Linked DNA regions of Homo sapiens. The protein of the gene in region 3 interacts with the protein of the main gene of each other region in a pairwise test. Each region holds a gene or a part of one and is shown on either strand. Other genes may lie near its edges. The genes, in order: PCDHGA4, HIBADH, PAEP and IGSF21.

Region 1 (4,609 bases), on a different chromosome or scaffold from region 3:
TCAGCTCATTGCAACCTCTGCCTCCCAGGTTCAAGCAATTCTCATGCCTCAGCCTCCAGGGTAGCTGGGACTACGGGCACACACCACCACGCCTAGCTAACTTTTTGTATTTTAGTAGAGACTGGGTTTCACCATGTTGCCCAGACTGGTCTCGAACTCCTGAGCTCAGGCAATCCGTCCTCCTCACACTCCCAAAGTGTTAGGATTACAGGTGTGAGCCACCACACCCAGCACAGAAAAGGAAATTTAAGGAAATGAGGTGGCTCAGAGTTGTAAAATTAGAAAATTCTGGCTGAAACTACAACTGAATGAAGACCAAAAAGGATAAGTAATAAACAACATTTTTGTGTGGTAAATACTGTTGATCATTATTGGAAGGTCATCCACCAGTTTTCTTTAAAGCAATAAAATATTAAAAGAGGCAACTTTATTTGATATATTACATATAAAATGAGAGACATTTACACAACTCTTTGTCTATATTTCAGTGTGGTATGATCTATTATAAGATTGACTCACCTGAAGATTAGGGTCTCCTTTTGTTTCAAGTAAATCCTGAGTTATCAGAAGAGGCTCGCTTTTCTCACAACTCTCCCGGCTGATGAGCGTGTCTGCATAGCTGGGTTGGGAGAAGATCAGGTGACTCTTCCGCGAGTCCGCGGTGAGGGAGACCTCGTGGGAATAGGTCTGCAGGAAAGCCCGAACCCCGTCCACGCCCACAAAGTGCGAGGCAGGCACACCTGCCAACCTGCTGCCTTCAGCGTGAAGCAGGCGTGACTTGTGCCAGCGTCTCAGCTTGAGTGCTAGCAGCACCGTGACAAAAGCCAGGAAGACGCAGGAGACAGCGGCCACTGCCACCACGAGATAGAGTGTGAGGCCCGAGTCGTCTGGGTCTGCTGAAGGCTTGAGGCTGCCCAAGTCAGCCAGGACATCTGGGATGCTGTCGGCCACAGCCACAGTGAGTGTGACGGTGGCCGAGAGAGGGGGCTGGCCATGGTCCTGGACGACCACTACAAGCCTCTGCTTGAGCGCGTCTCTGTCCAGCAGGGCCCGTGCGGTGCGCACCTCGCCTGTGTGCAGCCCCACTGCAAATAGTCCCGGCTCGCTGGACTTGAGTAGGCTGTAGGACAGCCAGGCATTCTGACCTGAGTCTCTGTCCACTGCCACCACTTTGGTCACCAGGTAGCCGGAATCTGCGGAGCGGGGTGCCAGCTCCACACCAGTGGAGCCATCAGTAGGGAAGGTGGGGTACAGGATCTCAGGGACATTGTCGTTCTGGTCCAGCACAAAGAGGCTCAGTGACACATTGCTGCTGAGTGGAGGGTCTCCACTGTCACTGGCTGTCATCAGCAGCTGCAGGTCTCTAAACTGCTCATAGTCGAAGGAGCAAAGAGCATATAGGATCCCTGTATTGGAGTTGATGGAGACATAGGAGGACAGAGGTGCACCCTGGAAGGTGTCTTCGGCCAGGGAGTAAGTGATTCGGGCATTGTCACCACTGTCAGGGTCTTGAGCAGTCATAGATAAGATGGAGGCTCCTCTGGGGTTGTTTTCAGGAATGTAAGCAGAGTAGGAAGCATGAGGGAAAGTGGGTGGGTTGTCATTGATGTCCATCACTTGCAGTGAAATATGAGTTTCTGTAGACAGTGGAGGAGTTCCCTGGTCAGTGGCAGTTACAGTGATGTTATATTCTGAGACTTCTTCCCTGTCCAGTGTTCTGTGTGTCAACAACCGATAATAATTTCCATAGGTCTTTTCAAGTGTGAATGGCAGATTATCTGGAATAGAACATGTGACTAGGCCATTTCCTCCTGAGTCACTGTCATGCACGTTGAAAAGTGCAATTACTGTACCCGGGGAAGAAGATTCCTGGACTGAGCTGGTGAGAGATGTAACTGTGACTTCTGGTGCGTTGTCATTTTCATCCAGAACTGTCACCAGTACCTTGCTTCTAGCTCGGAGACCAGGCCCATCATGGGCTTCTACATCTATGTCATAGAATCCAGAGTCCTCATAATCTAGACCCCCCAATATTGTTATATCCCCACTCAGAGAATTCAACTGAAATAGCTGTGATATTTTGTCTCTTACTTTCCGGAAAGAATACGTCACGTCTCCATTGGCTCCTTCATCTGGATCAGTGGCTTTTACGGTGAGTAGCCGAGTGCCTACAGGAACGTTCTCACGAACACTTACGTGGTACTCGGGCTGAGTGAACACGGGAGCATTATCGTTGGTATCCACAAGTATTATGAGAATCCTGGCAGTGCCAGAGCGAACCGGGTCACCTCCATCGAAGGCCGTGAGAACGAGGTGGTGAACCGCCTCTTCCTCGCGATCTAGAGCGCGTTCCAGCACCAGCTCTGGGTACTTAATCCCATCGGCCCCACTTTGCACGTCCAGGGAAAAGTAACCGTTTGAGTTGAGCTGGTAACCCTGCAGGGAGTTTACACCTACATCCGGATCAAAAGCTTCAGGAAGAGGAAATCTTGCCCCAGGATTTTCATTTTCAGCAACTTTTATTTCCCTCTGTTCTGTCCCAAAACTGGGTGGGTTATCATTAACATCGATTATTTCCACCTCTACCCGCAAAATCTTCACTGTATCTTCTAGAAGAATCTCCAGGTTTGTCACACAGTTTGGAGATCTGTCGCAGAGCTCCTCCCTGTCTATCCTACCCGCGGTGACCAAGGTGCCGCTGCGCGGGTTCAGGGCGAAAAGCTGCGTCCTACCTCTGGAGACGATGCGGACTCCGCGCTCCGCCAGCTCCCGGGGCGCCAACCCCAGGTCCTTGGCGATGTTGCCCACCACTGAGCCTTCTTCCTGCTCCTCAAACACCGAGTAGAGAATCTGTTCGGCCCTGATTTCCACCAGAACCCCCAGGAGAAGGCAGATCTGGAGCAGCCGGGTGTGGTCTGGGCGAGCAGGAGGCGCCGCCATTACAACCCCGCCGCGGAGTCGCCTGTGCTTCGGTTTTCCCTCTGTCGAGGCCTGAGGAGCCCCAGGATCTTCTGGGTCCAAAATAAAGTGCATTCACAGCCAGAGCTCTCAGGGCTTCCGCTTGAAGCTTTCATAAAGCTCCAGAGCCAGTGCTTTGTGCTGCAGAAATCTTGTGATTCTGATTAAATTTCTGGTTTGTCTTTTCCCCCTGATTGGTGAACAGCGACACCCAGAGTCTTAACCTGTTACTGCAATTTATTCTTGGTTAAAAAAAGTTTATTTTTTATACACTTTTCTATTCCTATTTCTCCCAAGATAATAAAGTCAAATTCCTGTTTTTGATTTGCAATGAAAATTCAAGAATGATCCAAGTCTTCCTGTACAATAAACTTTATGAAGTTATTTATTTTCTTAGAGAAAATATGACGATTTTTTTCCTAAGATGTGTTCTTCCTCTTTTCAGTTTTCACATTGTTCATCCCCACAGCCCATTCTCAGTATAGCGTATTGTGTGAGGGACATAATTATCTCTCCTAAAGACAAAGGTGGACTTGAAAAATGGATGAGACAGATAAGTGAAAAGACAGTGGGACAGGAACTTGGAGGTCTGGCTTTAGTCCCAATTTATGCAGTAACAAGTTTCCTCACAGGAGTTGACCCTCTAGAACCTGGGGCAATGCTTCAATTCCCTTGCAAAAAACTCACCTACTGTTCAAGAGTTAGCCTTACCCTGTACAAATGAGATTGACAAATAGGATAATAGGTTTGGGAAGAGAATTTGCTCCTTAATTTTGTGTACAGTAGATTCTTGGCCACAAGCTATGCATATGACTATCTTGTTCACAATGTGTTCTCAATCTTTAGAACAATACCTTTCATAGAGTAGTAATTTTTATGAAACCTTTCAATGTTTCATGAATGACCAGTTCAAATGCAAAGCCTAAAACAATGGGTAAATAACTCTGATCTTAAAAATAAAAAAGAAATAAAAAGAAAAGTTAGACTGAATAACTATAAAGTGCAGATAATAGTTTAGTGATTTTTTCACATGACACATTCAGTATTATTTTACAATTTCTAACTTTACTTTAGCTCTCATTTTAGAAATAGCCAGTAAAAGGAAATGTTTTGGTAGCCGAACATGGATTATCATTGCATGTGCCATCGCTTTCTTTCTTATGAATACTTACAGTAATTTACTAATCTGTGAAAATTTGAGATAAAGCAGTACATCAGTTCTTAAGCTTATTCCTCACTTAACAATTAGCAGTAGAAATGACTCATACAAAAGGGCATTAGCTATACAGAATTTAAAAACCCTCAGACTTTGAGAGAGTAGATTAAACGTGTTTTTCACAATCCTCAAAGACCGCACAAACTGCGGATGATTGAGAGGTGAAATAAGATGTTTGGAAATAAATTTGACAGTATGCATTAAAAAAATCTCAACATGTTTATAGATTTAACTAATTCCTCAGAAATCTACACTAAAGAAACAAGAAGTATGGAAAACGCTTTATAAACCCAAATGTTCATTACATTCTTTGTTTTAATAGAGACAAAATAGAAAGAGCATAAAAACAAATAATTTAGGAATGGTTAAGAAAATTATGAAATATCATTGACTGAAATTATAGAGTGGGAATAATATTGACTCAAAGTTAGTGAT
Region 2 (4,133 bases), on a different chromosome or scaffold from region 3:
AACTTTCAGATTTCTGCAGTGCTTATTTTCTCCCAGTTGAGGGTTGGTTTTTGTTTGTTTGTTTGTTTGTTTGTTTTTCCTGATTAAAAAGTAAGAATACGGCCAGGCGCGATAGCTCATGCCTTTAATCCCAGCATTTTGGGAGGCCGAGGAGGGCAGATCACCTGAGGTCAGGAGTTCGAGACCAGCCTGGCTAACATGGTGAAACCCAGTTTCTACTAAAAATAAAAAAAATTAGTCGGGCGTGGTGGTGCGTGTCTGTAAGCCCAGCTACTCAGGAGGCTGAGGCAGGAGAATCGCTTGAACCCGGGAGGTGGAGATGGCAGTCAGCTGAGATAGCACCATTGCACTCCAGCCTGGGCAACAGAGTGAGACTTCGTCTCAAATAGAAAAAAAAAAAGAAAAAGAATACATATACCTAGATACCACACAAGCATACCTTGGAGATATTGTGGGTTCAGTTCCAGACAACCACAACAAGTCACACAAATTTTTTGGTTTCCCAGTACATATAAAAATTACGTTTATACTATGCCATAGTCTATTAAGTGTGCATTAGCATTATGTCTAAACAATATACGTATCTTAATTTTAAAATGCTCTATTGCTAAAAAAGCTAACAATTATCTGAGCCTTCAGTGAGTCATATAGTCCTTTTTTGCTGGTGGAAGGTCTTGCCTTGAGGTTGATGAATGGTGATTGACCAGGGTGGCGGTTGCTGAAGGTTGGGTGGCTATGACAATTTCTTAAAATAGGACAGTAATGAAGTTTAAGTTTACTGCATTGATTTACTCATCCTTTCACAGAAGATTTATGTGCTACTGTTTGATAGCATTTTACCCACAGTAGAACTTCTTTCAAAAACGGAGGCAATCCTCTCAAACCCTGATGCTACTTTATCAACTAAGTTTGTGTAATATTCTAAATCCTTTCTGTCATTTCACCAGGAGTAGATCCATCTCAAGAAACCACTTTCTTTGCTCATCCATAAGAAGCAACTCCTCATCCCTTCAAGTTTAGCACAAGATTGTAGTAATTCAGTCACATCTGCAGGCTCCACTTCTAATTCTAGTTCTCCTATTTCCACCACGTCTGCAGTGACTTTCTCCATTGAAGTCTTAAAGGCCTCAAAGTTATCCATGAGCATTGGAATCAGCTTCTTTCAAACTCCTGTTAATGTTGATATTTTGACCTCCTCCCATGAATCACAAATATTCTTAATGGCATCTAGAATGGTGAATTATTTTCATAAGGTTTCAGTTTACTCTGCCCAGAGCTGTCAGAGGAATCACTATATATGGTAGCTATTGCCTTATGAAATACTTCTCACATAAGAGTTGAAAAATGACTCTTTGATCCATGGGCTACAGAATGGATGTTGTGTTCATAGACATGAAAACAACATTAATCTCCCTGTACATCTCCATCAGCACTCTTGGGTGACCACGTGTACTGTCAGTGAGCAGTCGTATTTTGAAAGGAATCTTTTCTTCTGACCAGTAGGTCTCAACAGTGGGCTTAAAATAAATATTCAGTAAACCATCCCATAAACAGATGTGCTTTCTTCTAGACTTTGCTGTTCCATTTGGAGAGCACAGGCAGAGTAGATTCAGCATAATTCTTAAGGGCCCTAGGATTTTTGGAATGGTAAATGAGCATTGGCTTCAACTTCAAGTCCCCAGCTGCACTGGCCCTTAACAAGAGGGTTAGCCTGTCCTTTGATGCTTTGGAAACAGACATTGACTTCTCTTTAGCTGCGAAAGTCCTAGATGATATCTTCCAACAGCAGGCTGTTTCATCTACACTGAAAATCTGTTGTTTAGTGTGGCTACCCTCATCAGTGATAGCTGGATCTTCTGGATAACTAACTTCCTGCAGTTTCTCCATCAGCAGTTGCTGCTTCACCTTCCACTTTTATGTTATGGAGATGGCTTCTTTGCTTAAACCTCATGAACTAATCACTACTAGCTTCACACGTCTTCTGCAGCTTCCTCACCTCTCTCAGCCTTCACAGAATTGAAGAAAGTTAGGGCCTTGTTCTGGGTTAAGCTTTGGTTTAAGGGAATGTTTTGGCTGGTTTGATCTATCCAGACCACTCAAACTTACTCCCTATCAGCAGTAAGGCCGTTTCACTTATCATTCATGTGTTCACTGGAATAGCATTTGTAATTTTCTTCAAGAATTTTTTCTTTGCATTCTACTGTTTGTTTTAATGGGCCTGCCTTTCAGCCTGTCTTGATTTTCTACATGCCTTCCTCACTAAGCTTAATCATTTCTAGCTTTTGATTTAAAGTGTGAGACAGCTGACTCCTCTTTTCATTTGAACACTTAAGAGGCCATTGTAGGGTTATTAATTGGCCTAATTTCAATATTTTGTGTCTCAGGGAATAGGGAGGCCTGAGGGGTAAGAGAGAGAGAGCTGCCATTCAGTGGCTGGGCAGTCAGAACACATGTGTACCACATTTATCGATTATGTTTGCCATCTTATGTGCGCTTTCTGACACCCCAAAACAGTTTCAATAGTAACATCAAAGATCACTGATCGGCTGGGCACAGTGGCTCATGCCTGTAATCCCAGCACTTTGGGAGGCCGAGGCAGGTGTATCACCTGAAGTTAGGAGTTTGAAACCAGCCTGGCCAACATGGTGAAACCCTGTCTCTACTAAAAAAAAAAAAAAAAAAAAAAAACGCTGGGTGTGGTGGTGGCAAATGCCTGTAATCCCAGCTGCTCAGGAGGCTGCGGGAGGAGAATCACTTGAACCCAGGAGGCAGAGGTTGCTGTGAGCCAAGATTGCGCCACTACACTCCAGCCTGGGCAACAAGAGAGAAACTCCGTCTCAAAAAAAAAAAAGTTACTGATTGATTGCAGATCACCGTAACAGAAATAATAGTAATGAAAAAGTTTGAAATATTGTGAGAATTACCAAAATGTGACAGCTGCATGAACTGGGCACATGCTGTTGGAAAAACAGTGCTGATAGACTTGCTCAATGCAGGATTGCCACAAACCTTCAATTATTAAAATACAAAAACAAACATGCATTATCTGTGAAGCATGATAAAGTGAAGCACACTAAGACAAGATGTGCCCATACTTGGCTTACTCTCCCTCATTCCCCATGACGTTTGTTCATTCTGCTTCTTGAATATGCCTTGAATTCATCCAGCTCCCTCCTCCCCAGCTAGCTGTACCTTGGCTGAGCCTCGTTTGTGTTGTACCACAAATACATCTTAACTGATCTTGTCTTTCAGCCTGATCTTCTCCAGTTTATTTTCCATATCAAAGCAAGAGTGAGCTTTCTAAAATGTAAAATCCTGATTGTGTCACTTCTCCTTTGAAGCTTTTGTAGTTTCAGTTACTTGGAGATTAAAGTCCATCCCTGCAACTTGTCTGACAAGCCCCCAGATGCCTTGGCTTTTGCTTGCCTCAACCAGACTGATTTTCTTTCCCATCCCCCTCTCCTTGCTTTCATCGTGCTGAACTCACTTCTCCCTCTTGTTCTGTCTCTTGGAAACCTTCACATTTGCTTCACATTTGCTGTCACATTGTCTGCCAGGATGGATCATTCTTCCTTGCCCACCACCTCCCTGCCACCCCCATGTTTTCACCTGGCTCCAGGTCTGTGCTTCACTGTCTTCTTTTTCTTCACCTTTCCCAGCACCCCAGACCCTGCTTCCTTGGATCCCATGATAGTACTCCTCCTATCCAATTATACCATGCTTATTTAATTGTCTTTCTCCTTAACACAATGTGAGTTTGGGTGGGCTGTGGCTGTTTTGCTCATCATTTTATCCCAGCTTCTGGCACATTGTCAGCACACTTCAAATATTTATTGGATGAAGTAATATTTGCAACTGTATTTCCTGTTTTGCAGTTTTATTTCTCCTTGTTTTCATTTAAGAATTTTTTAAAAAAAATTTATGTCTTAAAGATTTCCACAGATAAGATTACACAGGGAAATTTTTTTTCTTCAAATCTGTGGAACAAAACAAACAGGTATTGTGGAAGGTGGAAAAATCGAAGAGACACTCAGAAATCAAGGTTTCTGTCTGGAGCAATTTTGCAGTTATATGAAAGCGCTTATTTAAAAATGTTAACTTACCATAGTATTTATAAGTATCTTATTTTTTCA
Region 3 (4,725 bases):
TGGGGTGTGGTGGCTCACACCTATAATTCCAGCACTTTGGGAGGCCGAGGTGAGCAGATCACTTGAGGTCAGCAGTTCGAGACCAGCTTGGCCAAAATAGTGAAAACCCCTCTCTACTAAAAATACAAACATTAGCCAGGTGTGGTGGTGGGCGCCTATAATCCCAGCTACTCTGGAGGCTGAAGCAGCAGGATTACTTGAACCTGGGATGCAGAGGTTGCAGTGAGTCAAGATCGTACCACTGCACTCCACCCTGGGCAACAGAGCAAGACTTGGCCTCAAAAAAATGTATATATGTATATATGTGTGTGTGTGTGTCACACACATGTCTATAGCTACCTACAAAATATCTTGCTGAGAATTTGATAGGAATTGCATTAAATCTCTAGGTTGAGTTGAGGAGAGCTAACACCTTTGCTGTGTTGAAGCTTCCAGCCCATGAACACATTGTGCCTGTCCTTTACCTTAGGTCTTTGATTTCCCTTCCTTGGGTTCAGAGTTTAAGTCCTGTCCATATTTGGTGAGATTTTTGCCTACATGCTGTGTGTGTGATTACAAATCCTGAATTTCCAGTTTCGGGTTCTGTCTACTCCTTGACACTGTGTGGGAACACGGTGGATTTTTGTGCGATTGACCTTGCTGACCTCACTCGGTTCTAGGAGGGGTTTTGTAGAGTTCTTGCAATTTTGTACCTGGGCAATGATGTTATATGCGAATAGAGACAGGTATACCTCCCCCTTCCCAATCTGCCTGCCTTTAGTTACCATTTCTTGCCTAGCTGCTCTGGCCGGAATGACCTGCTCTGATGGATGGGGGAGTGGGAGTGGACACCCGTGTCTTGCCTCAGGACTCAAGTGCTCTCCAGGGAGTGAGATGCGGGCTCGATTGTAAGTTACAAAGTGATGCTTCCCTGTGGGAAAAAGTACATCCAATATAGACTGTAGGACAAAGTCTGAAAGTCCACTGCCTCCCATTTCCACCCAGTCTTGCCTGTGAGTCAGAGAGAAACAGTGCTAACAGGCAGTGTGCACCTGTCCAGAGGCTGGCTGTTTGAGGGACACAGGTGTGCACACCTGGGGATGTCTGAGTGGAAGGTACAGGTCAGGATTATGACCGTGCAGTCAGTCACCCACTGGCATGATGTCTGTGGCATCCTGGGGCAGCCATGGGGCTCTCAGGCCCTCTGCCTGCCCCACAGGCCATACCCCTGCCCTGGACACAGCTGTCCTCAGTGCTGGCCTCTGACCCAACATTGTCCAGGAGCCCCAACCCAGAAGGTGCTCCCGCCGCTGCCAGCCTGGACCCGACCCAGGCCCCTCCCGCCTGAGGCCCTGCCAAGAACTGCCCAGCCCGGACACAGAGGAGGTTCCCGCGTGGACGCAGGGAAGAGCCTCCCATTGCCCCAGTGGAGGAAGCTGCCCAGGGGCCAAGGATGAGTCACAGGTTCGAGGAATCACATGGCGAGGCTGTGGGCGGGGATCTTGTCTGCCCTCCTCCTACATAAGGCCCCCTGAGCCCACACTGCCTCAGCATCCCTCTGGCTCCAGAGCTCAGAGCCACCCACAGCCGCAGCCATGCTGTGCCTCCTGCTCACCCTGGGCGTGGCCCTGGTCTGTGGTGTCCCGGCCATGGACATCCCCCAGACCAAGCAGGACCTGGAGCTCCCAAAGGTTTGAGGCTGGGGGAGCGGGCACTTTACTGTGGGAGGCCTGGGGCGGGTGGGAGCTGCGGGCAGGCAGGAAGCCCAGGATCTCAGAAACCTACAGGAAGCACAGAATGGACGCCATGACGTCAGGAAGCCCTCAGCCCTGCTCTCCATCTTTAGGGTGGCCTCTCTGGTTTCCCAGCATCCTAGGTGACTCATTATTTGGACTTTGGAACACTCCTGAGTTAGCACACACTGGTCATTTTAAGTACAGGAAATTTCATAGCCCAGGATCTGGTAGATAGCAGACAACCATCCAATGCTCACTGTACCCATCCCAGTTAGACTCAGCCCCGTCTGCACCGGGTGCAACGAGAGCCATGGTGGGGTGGGACCGCCGTGCAGCCCAAGGCCCCCTCAGTTGGCAGGGACCTGGCACTCCATGGCCATGGCGACCAACAACATCTCCCTCATGGCGACACTGAAGGCCCCTCTGAGGGTCCACATCACCTCACTGTTGCCCACCCCCGAGGACAACCTGGAGATCGTTCTGCACAGATGGTGGGTTTCTCATCATTGAGACGGGCTGGGCGGGGGCTCAGTCTCCCCCCTCAGGGGTCCAGGACTGGGTGGGTTGGGCGGAGCTGGACTTAGCCCCAGGCATTTTCTGACAGCCAGGGGCTTCACTGTGGCCCTTCCATGAGGGTGGGGTGGAAAACCAGGGCTCCAGACGTTCCCTGTCCCCTTGGATCCCCTGCCCCAGGCTCTGGGCCAACAGCCAACCACACAGTGCAGCCCCAGGTCAGACTGAGGAGAAGGTCTGGGCGGCTGCGGGCTGCGGTGCTCCTTGGACCCGGGGAAGTTCCCGTGGTGACCTGATTTTAGGAGTGACAGTGAAGGCAACTCCAATTCAAGTGGCCACTCATCCTATTGTCACCACCTTTCAGGGAGAACAACAGCTGTGTTGAGAAGAAGGTCCTTGGAGAGAAGACTGAGAATCCAAAGAAGTTCAAGATCAACTGTGAGTGTCCCCAGGCCCCAAGGGCTGGCTCAGTGCTGGCATGCTAGCCACGCTCTCCCAGAGGCGGCTCTGCTGGGGCATGAGGGAGTGGGGCCTGGCCTGTCCCCACTCTCTCTGCTTCAGGGAGTCAGAGTGTTTACTCCGGTCAACCTGATGCTGACCCCAGAGGCATCTTTTACCTGGAGGGCAGGGGAAGCACTAATTCTTGGCATGACATGACTGGATGTGGGTCTGCACTGTGCCCAGGCACAGGGGACAGGTGCTTTGTTGCACTGTTCACTCTGGCCTCACAAAAGGCCAGGGAGGCTGCAGGCGAGCAGGTGGGCAGGTGGGCAGGTGGGTAGGTGGGTAGGTGGATATGTATACAGGTGGGCAGGAGGGTAGGTGAACAGGTGGGTAGGTGGGCAGGTGGCTAGGTGAGTAAGTGGTTAGGTGAACAGGTGGGCAGGTGAGCAGGTGGTTAGGTGAACAGGTGGGCAGGTGGGTAGGTGGGTAGGTATACAGGTGGACAGGTGGGTAGGTGGACAGGTGGGCAGGTGAGTAGGTGAACAGGTGGGTGGGTGAACAGGTGGCCAGGTGAACAAGTTGGTAGGTGGGCAGGTGGGTAGGTGAACAGGTGGGCAGGTGGGCAGGTGGGCAGGTGGGCAGGTGGGCAAGTGGCTGCTGTTCCCGTGGGCCTGGCTGCCTCCTGCGCACTCTGGGGCTGCAGCTCTGGTCTTAGGCTGAGCTCCCAGGCCTCTCTGGGGGAAGAGAGAGGGGCTTACAGCATGTCCTTGGTCCACTGAATTCTTCCTAACAATTTGCAACATTTTGTTCTATTTTGTTAATTATTATTTTTTTAAAAAGACAGAGGTGGTCAGGGTCTGGGGCCTCTTATCCCCTCATGGGCACATTTTCCCAGCAAATACAGTTTGCTTCTCATGCTTGGGACTTGCCTCAGGCCTTTCTGACCCTGCTTGCCCTCCCCAGAATCGAGCCACTCTCCAAGGTCCATTTCTTCTCCCTCTTCCCGCCCCTGTGCCCTGTTCCTGTGCCATCTCCCGCCATCCTCACCCGTACGTGACTTCTCAGTTGGAGTCTCTCCAGGTCACAGCCTCCCTGCCTGCCGTGTCTGCCTCTCCACGGCACACCTGGCCTCTCCCCCTCAGCCGGGGCTCCATGGCCCTCCACATTGCCTCTCCTCCCCTTTCCTCCCTGGCTTCCCTGATCATGGTCCACAGCAGGGGCCACGTCCCATGGTGTCAGTGGATGAGGAAGCCACTTAGTGTGGTGGGATGTCCACACACCTGCACAGGACTCTGCTGAGACGGAGGCTTCATCTTCCTTTTGGTTCTTCTCTTCTTTCCCCAGATACGGTGGCGAACGAGGCCACGCTGCTCGATACTGACTACGACAATTTCCTGTTTCTCTGCCTACAGGACACCACCACCCCCATCCAGAGCATGATGTGCCAGTACCTGGGTGGGTCTCACAGCACATGAGCTCAACGTGGGTGAGAGGCAGCAGCTACGTCCGTGGCTGGGAACCCTGGGGAGCTGACAACTGGCTTCCTGTCCACCTCGGTGCCTGTGGGCTGACTTTTTTTTTCTTGGTTTTTTTTATTTGTTTGTTGTTTGCTTTGTTTTTTTGAGAAAGGGTCTCATTCTGTCACTCAGGCTGGAGTGTAGTGACGTGATCTCGGCTCACTGCAACTTCTGCCTCCCAGATTCAAGCGATTCTCGTGCCTCAGCCTCCAGAGTAGCTGGGATTACAGGCGCACGCCACCATGCCCAGCTAATTTTTGTATTTTTTGGTAGAGACGGGGTTTCACCATGTTGGCCAGGCTGGTCTCCAACTCCTGGATCAAGTGATCCACCCGCCTTGGCCTCCCAAAGGGCTGGGATTACAGGCGTGAGCCACCACGCCCGGCCAGGCTGAGTTTTTCTCCAGCGGTTCATCGAGTCCTCTGACAAAGCAAGGAGCTGATATAGGGCCAGTGGGACGGTCGCCAGTCAAGGGGCTGGGCTTGGTGGATAGATTAATACTCACTGGGCGTCCAGTCAAAACGCCCTGAAACCTA
Region 4 (4,569 bases), on a different chromosome or scaffold from region 3:
AAAAAAAAAAAAAAAAAAAAAAAAATCCCACTTAGGGACAAACTGTAATCAAACACCTATTTATAAGGGTTTATTATGATCATTATTATTATTTTACTGAGAGGATCATTCTAAAGCCTGTCAGGTGAACGTATGCTTTCAGATCTTCATAAATGCAAATCGCTCCTTCTGGGGTGGGTGAGCAAGCTGAGCCGCAGAGCTGCCTTGGGAGGCGATGGGGTGAGGTTCCAGAGGGCAGGAGGAGGGAGCAGTTCACTTTCATGGACATCTCTGCACAAAGCTCACCCAGAGGCAGCCCAGCAACCACCCATTGCCCACCCCACTCCCTACACTCCTCTCAGAGGGCTGCTGGAGATGGAACTGGCTATAGACCCATTGCCCATGTAGGTAAACGATGCAACAGCCTGACTCAGCAACCTGCCAGAGCTAGGGAAGCTGGAGATTCTCCATAGAAGGCCTGGGTAAAGGGACCCACCTGAGTTCTGAGCAGGTTTTGCCCCTGGTCGTGCTGGTTTTTCTGGGCTTTGCCAATCTTCTGGGTCCCTACCAATGGTGAAATTCTATCTCCTGAACTTCCTCATCTAACCACATCCCCAGTCCACTCCAAGGGCTAGAGTACCCCTCCCCTTCATCCTCGCAGGAGGCCTCAAAGTCCACCGCCAGGGCTGAGGCTCAATGGTGTGTGTGTGTGTGTGTGTGTGTGTGTGTGTGTGCTCGCGTGTGTGTTGGTGGGAGAGTAATGGTAACATACAAGTCCCAAACCTGTTCTTCTCGGACCTGGGAAGAAAAGCTGTCAGGTCTGGCAAAAAGGTGGAAACTTGGTCTCTGCCAGGAGGAAACAATCAGTTCCTCACCCTTCCTGGCTGGATCCTAGCACATGGGAAAAAGACAGAACACACCCCATTTCCGTGGGTCCCTGGGGGAAGGAGCAGCCGTAATTGGGGAAGTTTCAGAACATGGAAACCCCTTAATCTTGCCCAATGAGGGCATTCATCGTTGGCAAGGTCAGAACTCCAGAGCCACACCCTGCCTGCCCTGCTCCCAGGATGGCATCTTTCCCTCTCGGGAGGGAGGCTGCCTCCTTTCATCAGGCTGAGTAGCGGGGAGGGCGATGGTAATCCCGGGGATAGGAGGGGCTAGGTAAAGGCGGATCCGATGGAGCATAGCTTCCAGGGCGGGGTGTTGGGTCACCTGGGTAAGGGTTAAGAAGCTGGAGGCAGCAAGCCAGTTTTGAGTGAGGGGGGACCTGAGTGAGGGGAGAGGGGAGGTTAGGAGGGGGTGAGCTCTCCTTCTCCCTGCAATAAATCGGCTTAGCGGACGAGAGCCGAACAGCCCAGAAAGGATTAAAGAAAAGTCTGTATAATACGCGGAGAGCGCGGCGAGGGGAGGGCAAGGAGGGCGGGGGGGCGGGGAGAGGGGGAGGGACGGAGGGAGGGCGAGAGGAGGGGGGTGCTCGCGCCGCCGGGAGAGGCGAGCGCGAGGCAGAGAGCGCGATTCGGCTCCAAACTCCGGCGCTGCAGCCGATCGGACTCTGGGCCGCGGTGGGCACCGCGCGCAGCTAGGGAGCCGAGAACCGCGGCGAGCCCCGAGGACGCCCAGAGCGCGAGGGTCGCTGCGCCTCGCAGAGCCGGAGCCGAGTCGAGCCGGGCGCCCGGGCTGCCTGGCCGCGGCGGCATGGGGGCGCCCCCGCGGCTCTCCGCGCTGCCCGCCACCGCCTCGGCCAGTGGCCGGAGGCAGGAGCGCGTCTGAGCCCATGGCGAGGGGACCCGCCGCCACCGCCTCCACCCCCGCCGCCCCGCCACCGCCGCCAGCTCCCGGGCACCATGCGAACCGCCCCGAGCCTCCGCCGCTGCGTCTGCCTGCTGCTCGCCGCGATCCTGGACCTGGCGCGCGGTGAGTGCGCGGGCGCCTGGCGGGAGCCGAGCGGTGAACGTGCGCGGGGACGGGGTGCCGGGGGAGGGCGCTGGCCGGGGTCGCTCCGAGAGGCTCGGGCTACGAGCACCGGTCCTGCCCGGGGTCTGTGGAGCTGGTTGGCTCGATGAGGGAGGGAGGACGCCTCTTGGAGAGCGCTCATGGATTTGTGCCAGGGTGTGTGTGTGTGTGTAAATTGTGTGTCTTTGTTGTGTGTCTGGGTGAGGGTGTCCGGGAAGGAGCTGTGTGGGCAGAAGGTGCGGGAGTGTATTTAGAGATGCAAGTGTGTGTGTGCGTGTGTGTGTGATGGTGTGGGGTCTGCGTGTGAGTGAGCGAGGGTCTGGATGGGTGTTAGAGTGTCTGTGTCAGTTACATGGAGAAGGTGTGTGTGTGAGAGTGTGAGCGAATGTTGGGGGGAGGGTGTGAACATGTGCCACCTTCCCTGTGAGGGTGTGAAGTGTGTGAGCTTGTGTCACTGTGGGTGTGAGGTGTTAGGGGGTGGGTATGTGAGGTTTGGCGTTTCACGTGTGTCCCGAGTGTGCAGGTCTCTAGGGGTGTACGACAGCGGATTACTATTTCTGTGTGCACAGGAGATGGGACTGTGACACTGGACAAGAGTCTGCTTATGTGGGATGGGTGGGGGTGCAGGTGCCTGGGAGTCGTGGGCTTCATGGGGCTGGGAGTGTGTGTATGCGTGCCATGGAGCGTGTGGTTATCGTGTGCAGGGAGGTATGGACGCTTCCGGGGCTGGGGAGTTGTGAGCAGCTCAGTGTGTGTGTGTGTGTGTGTGTGTGTGTGTCCCGCCGTGTGGACTTGCTCCCGGGTTAGGCTAAGACAGCTAGAAGGAGGTTGAAGCCGAGCGGGTTCTCCGGAGCCAGTGAGAGGTGGCTCCGCAGCCCCAGGGTCCGCGGCCGGCCTCCCACCCAGTGCCGCCGCGTAGTGGGTCTTAAATGGAGCTGAACCCTTTCGCGCAGTGAGCAGAGAGCCAACGTGAGGCTAAAAGCCAGGAGGGAGGGAGGCGGGACCAGCGAAGAGCCGCAGGCACCGAGACTACAGGCTCCGCGTCCGGGATCCTCCTCGGAGCCTGGTGCCAACCTCAGCCTGGCTGGAGTCAGAGCCTGGCTCCGCCTCGGAGGGGAGCGGGACGCGAGGTGCCAAAAAGTCGTCTTTATGATCAATAAGGTCTCGACCCCGAGCCCCACTGGATGATAGAGGTGGGCATCACCTCTGTCCTATGCCATAGCCTTGTCCCAGCAGGAGGTGCCTACCTAGGCTCTGAGAGTGCCTGCCAGGAAGGGGTGCCCCCTTAAAAATAACCCCAACTCCTTCTACCCCGAAGTCCTTGGGGAGTGCTGGGTCTGCTGATGGGAGAAGCTGCAGAATTTGAGCCCGGAAGGTGGTCCTGACAGCGAGGGGGGAGGGGTTGGTGTAACCCAGAAGGAATGCAAACCCTGTACTTTGTTCCCCTACCCTTGGAACAAGAGACTTTCCTAAGTGGATCAAAATGTCCCCCCTCAACTTTGGGAGGAGGGCTCTAGAGGGAAAGGTTACATGGGGGAGGTCCTCGTTCCAGCGCCGCCGAGAGGGCACTGGGGTTTGTTGAAAGGCACTGGAGCCCTCACCTGGACATTGCAGGGGGCGGGGGTTGGAGGCTGGGGACCTAAGGTAAGCACCCCTTTCCCTGGGAATGCGCAGAACAGAGAGACGCGGCAGGGTGAAGGAGAGGACTGATGAGAAGGGCTTGTTGGGAAACCCTGGCTCCGTCAGGACCCCACCCTGCGAGCTCTCCCTGGAACCCGGGAGCAGGGTTCTTCTGGCTGCCCGGCTGCAGAGAGCTGACCCGGCATCCTGACGCCTCAAATCCCTTTGCCCGCCTCTGCGGGCTGCGGGAGGCGGGGGTTGGCGTGCCTGAGGGTGAGCGCATCTGGGCCGGTGCAGCCAGCGCGGCCTCGGAGCTCCGCTGCTCAGGATGAAGGAAGAGCGCAGACGCGGATCGCGAATGGGAAACTTTCCGCGTCTGGGGCGCAGAGGGAGATCCGAGGCAGCCGGGAGCCCTCTCTTCTCCGCAGAGGAGAGCACACGAGGGTGGGGTCCCTCCTTCCTCCTTCCAAGTCTGTGCCCAGAATGGGGGGCGGGGTGCGAGAAGAGTCCGTGAGAGACGCAAGAGGCGGGCTGTGCCGGAGGAGGGCGCCCTTCCTGGAGGTGGCCGAGAGAGGTGCACCTGGCAGCGGCTTTGCAGGGCCACCTGCCTCCGAGGGCGCAGAGAGGAGCAACCCGCGCCGGCCTTCACGAACGTACTGGCGGTCACTGCTCGGGGAGGGGCACGGCCAGAACGCCCTCGCCGGTTCTGCCCCTTTGGGTGGCAGAGCAAGGGTGCCCGACGCTAGAGAGTCGGGTCTGGCAGGAGGAAGGAGGCCGCTGCCCCTCGCACTGGCTGGGCCGGAAGTCCTTGCCCTGGCTCCCCACTTCCCAGAATCAGACCCTCCAAAGGAGAAACCCACATTTCTCGGGACTCCTGGGCGTGTCCTGGGGCGTTTTCAACTCCTCCAGCCCCCGTGAACCGTGCCTGGGCACTTCTGGGAAGTCCTGCACTGGAGCCTGTGCAGTGGCGCCGGGCTGGGGATGGAGGAGTGGTCCTTAGCCGCTGTTCAGCCCTGG

Evidence for each region.
Region 1: the proteins of PAEP (region 3) and PCDHGA4 interact in binary tests that used the Homo sapiens proteins (3 or more experiments, as listed by UniProt).
Region 2: the proteins of PAEP (region 3) and HIBADH interact in binary tests that used the Homo sapiens proteins (3 or more experiments, as listed by UniProt).
Region 4: the proteins of PAEP (region 3) and IGSF21 interact in a two-hybrid assay, tested with the Homo sapiens proteins (one large-scale study listed by BioGRID and IntAct).

The regions. Positions count from the first base shown.
Region 1 is NC_000005.10:141,353,532-141,358,140, reverse strand, and holds the start of PCDHGA4 (protocadherin gamma-A4 isoform 1 precursor), read right to left. Parts: upstream 3,121-4,609; 5' UTR 3,034-3,120; coding exon 520-3,033; coding exon of another isoform or gene 478-519; exon of another isoform or gene 408-477; intron 1-407. UniProt on the Homo sapiens protein: Potential calcium-dependent cell-adhesion protein. May be involved in the establishment and maintenance of specific neuronal connections in the brain.
Region 2 is NC_000007.14:27,526,474-27,530,606, reverse strand, and holds part of HIBADH (3-hydroxyisobutyrate dehydrogenase, mitochondrial isoform 1 precursor), read left to right. Parts: intron 1-4,133.
Region 3 is NC_000009.12:135,560,228-135,564,952, forward strand, and holds the start of PAEP (glycodelin isoform 1 precursor), read left to right. Parts: upstream 1-1,528; 5' UTR 1,529-1,574; coding exon 1,575-1,670; intron 1,671-2,066; coding exon 2,067-2,206; intron 2,207-2,592; coding exon 2,593-2,666; intron 2,667-4,016; coding exon 4,017-4,127; intron 4,128-4,725. UniProt on the Homo sapiens protein: Glycoprotein that regulates critical steps during fertilization and also has immunomonomodulatory effects. Four glycoforms, namely glycodelin-S, -A, -F and -C have been identified in reproductive tissues that differ in glycosylation and biological activity.
Region 4 is NC_000001.11:18,106,306-18,110,874, forward strand, and holds the start of IGSF21 (immunoglobulin superfamily member 21 precursor), read left to right. Parts: upstream 1-1,492; 5' UTR 1,493-1,823; coding exon 1,824-1,893; intron 1,894-4,569. UniProt on the Homo sapiens protein: Involved in synaptic inhibition in the brain. Selectively regulates inhibitory presynaptic differentiation through interacting with presynaptic NRXN2.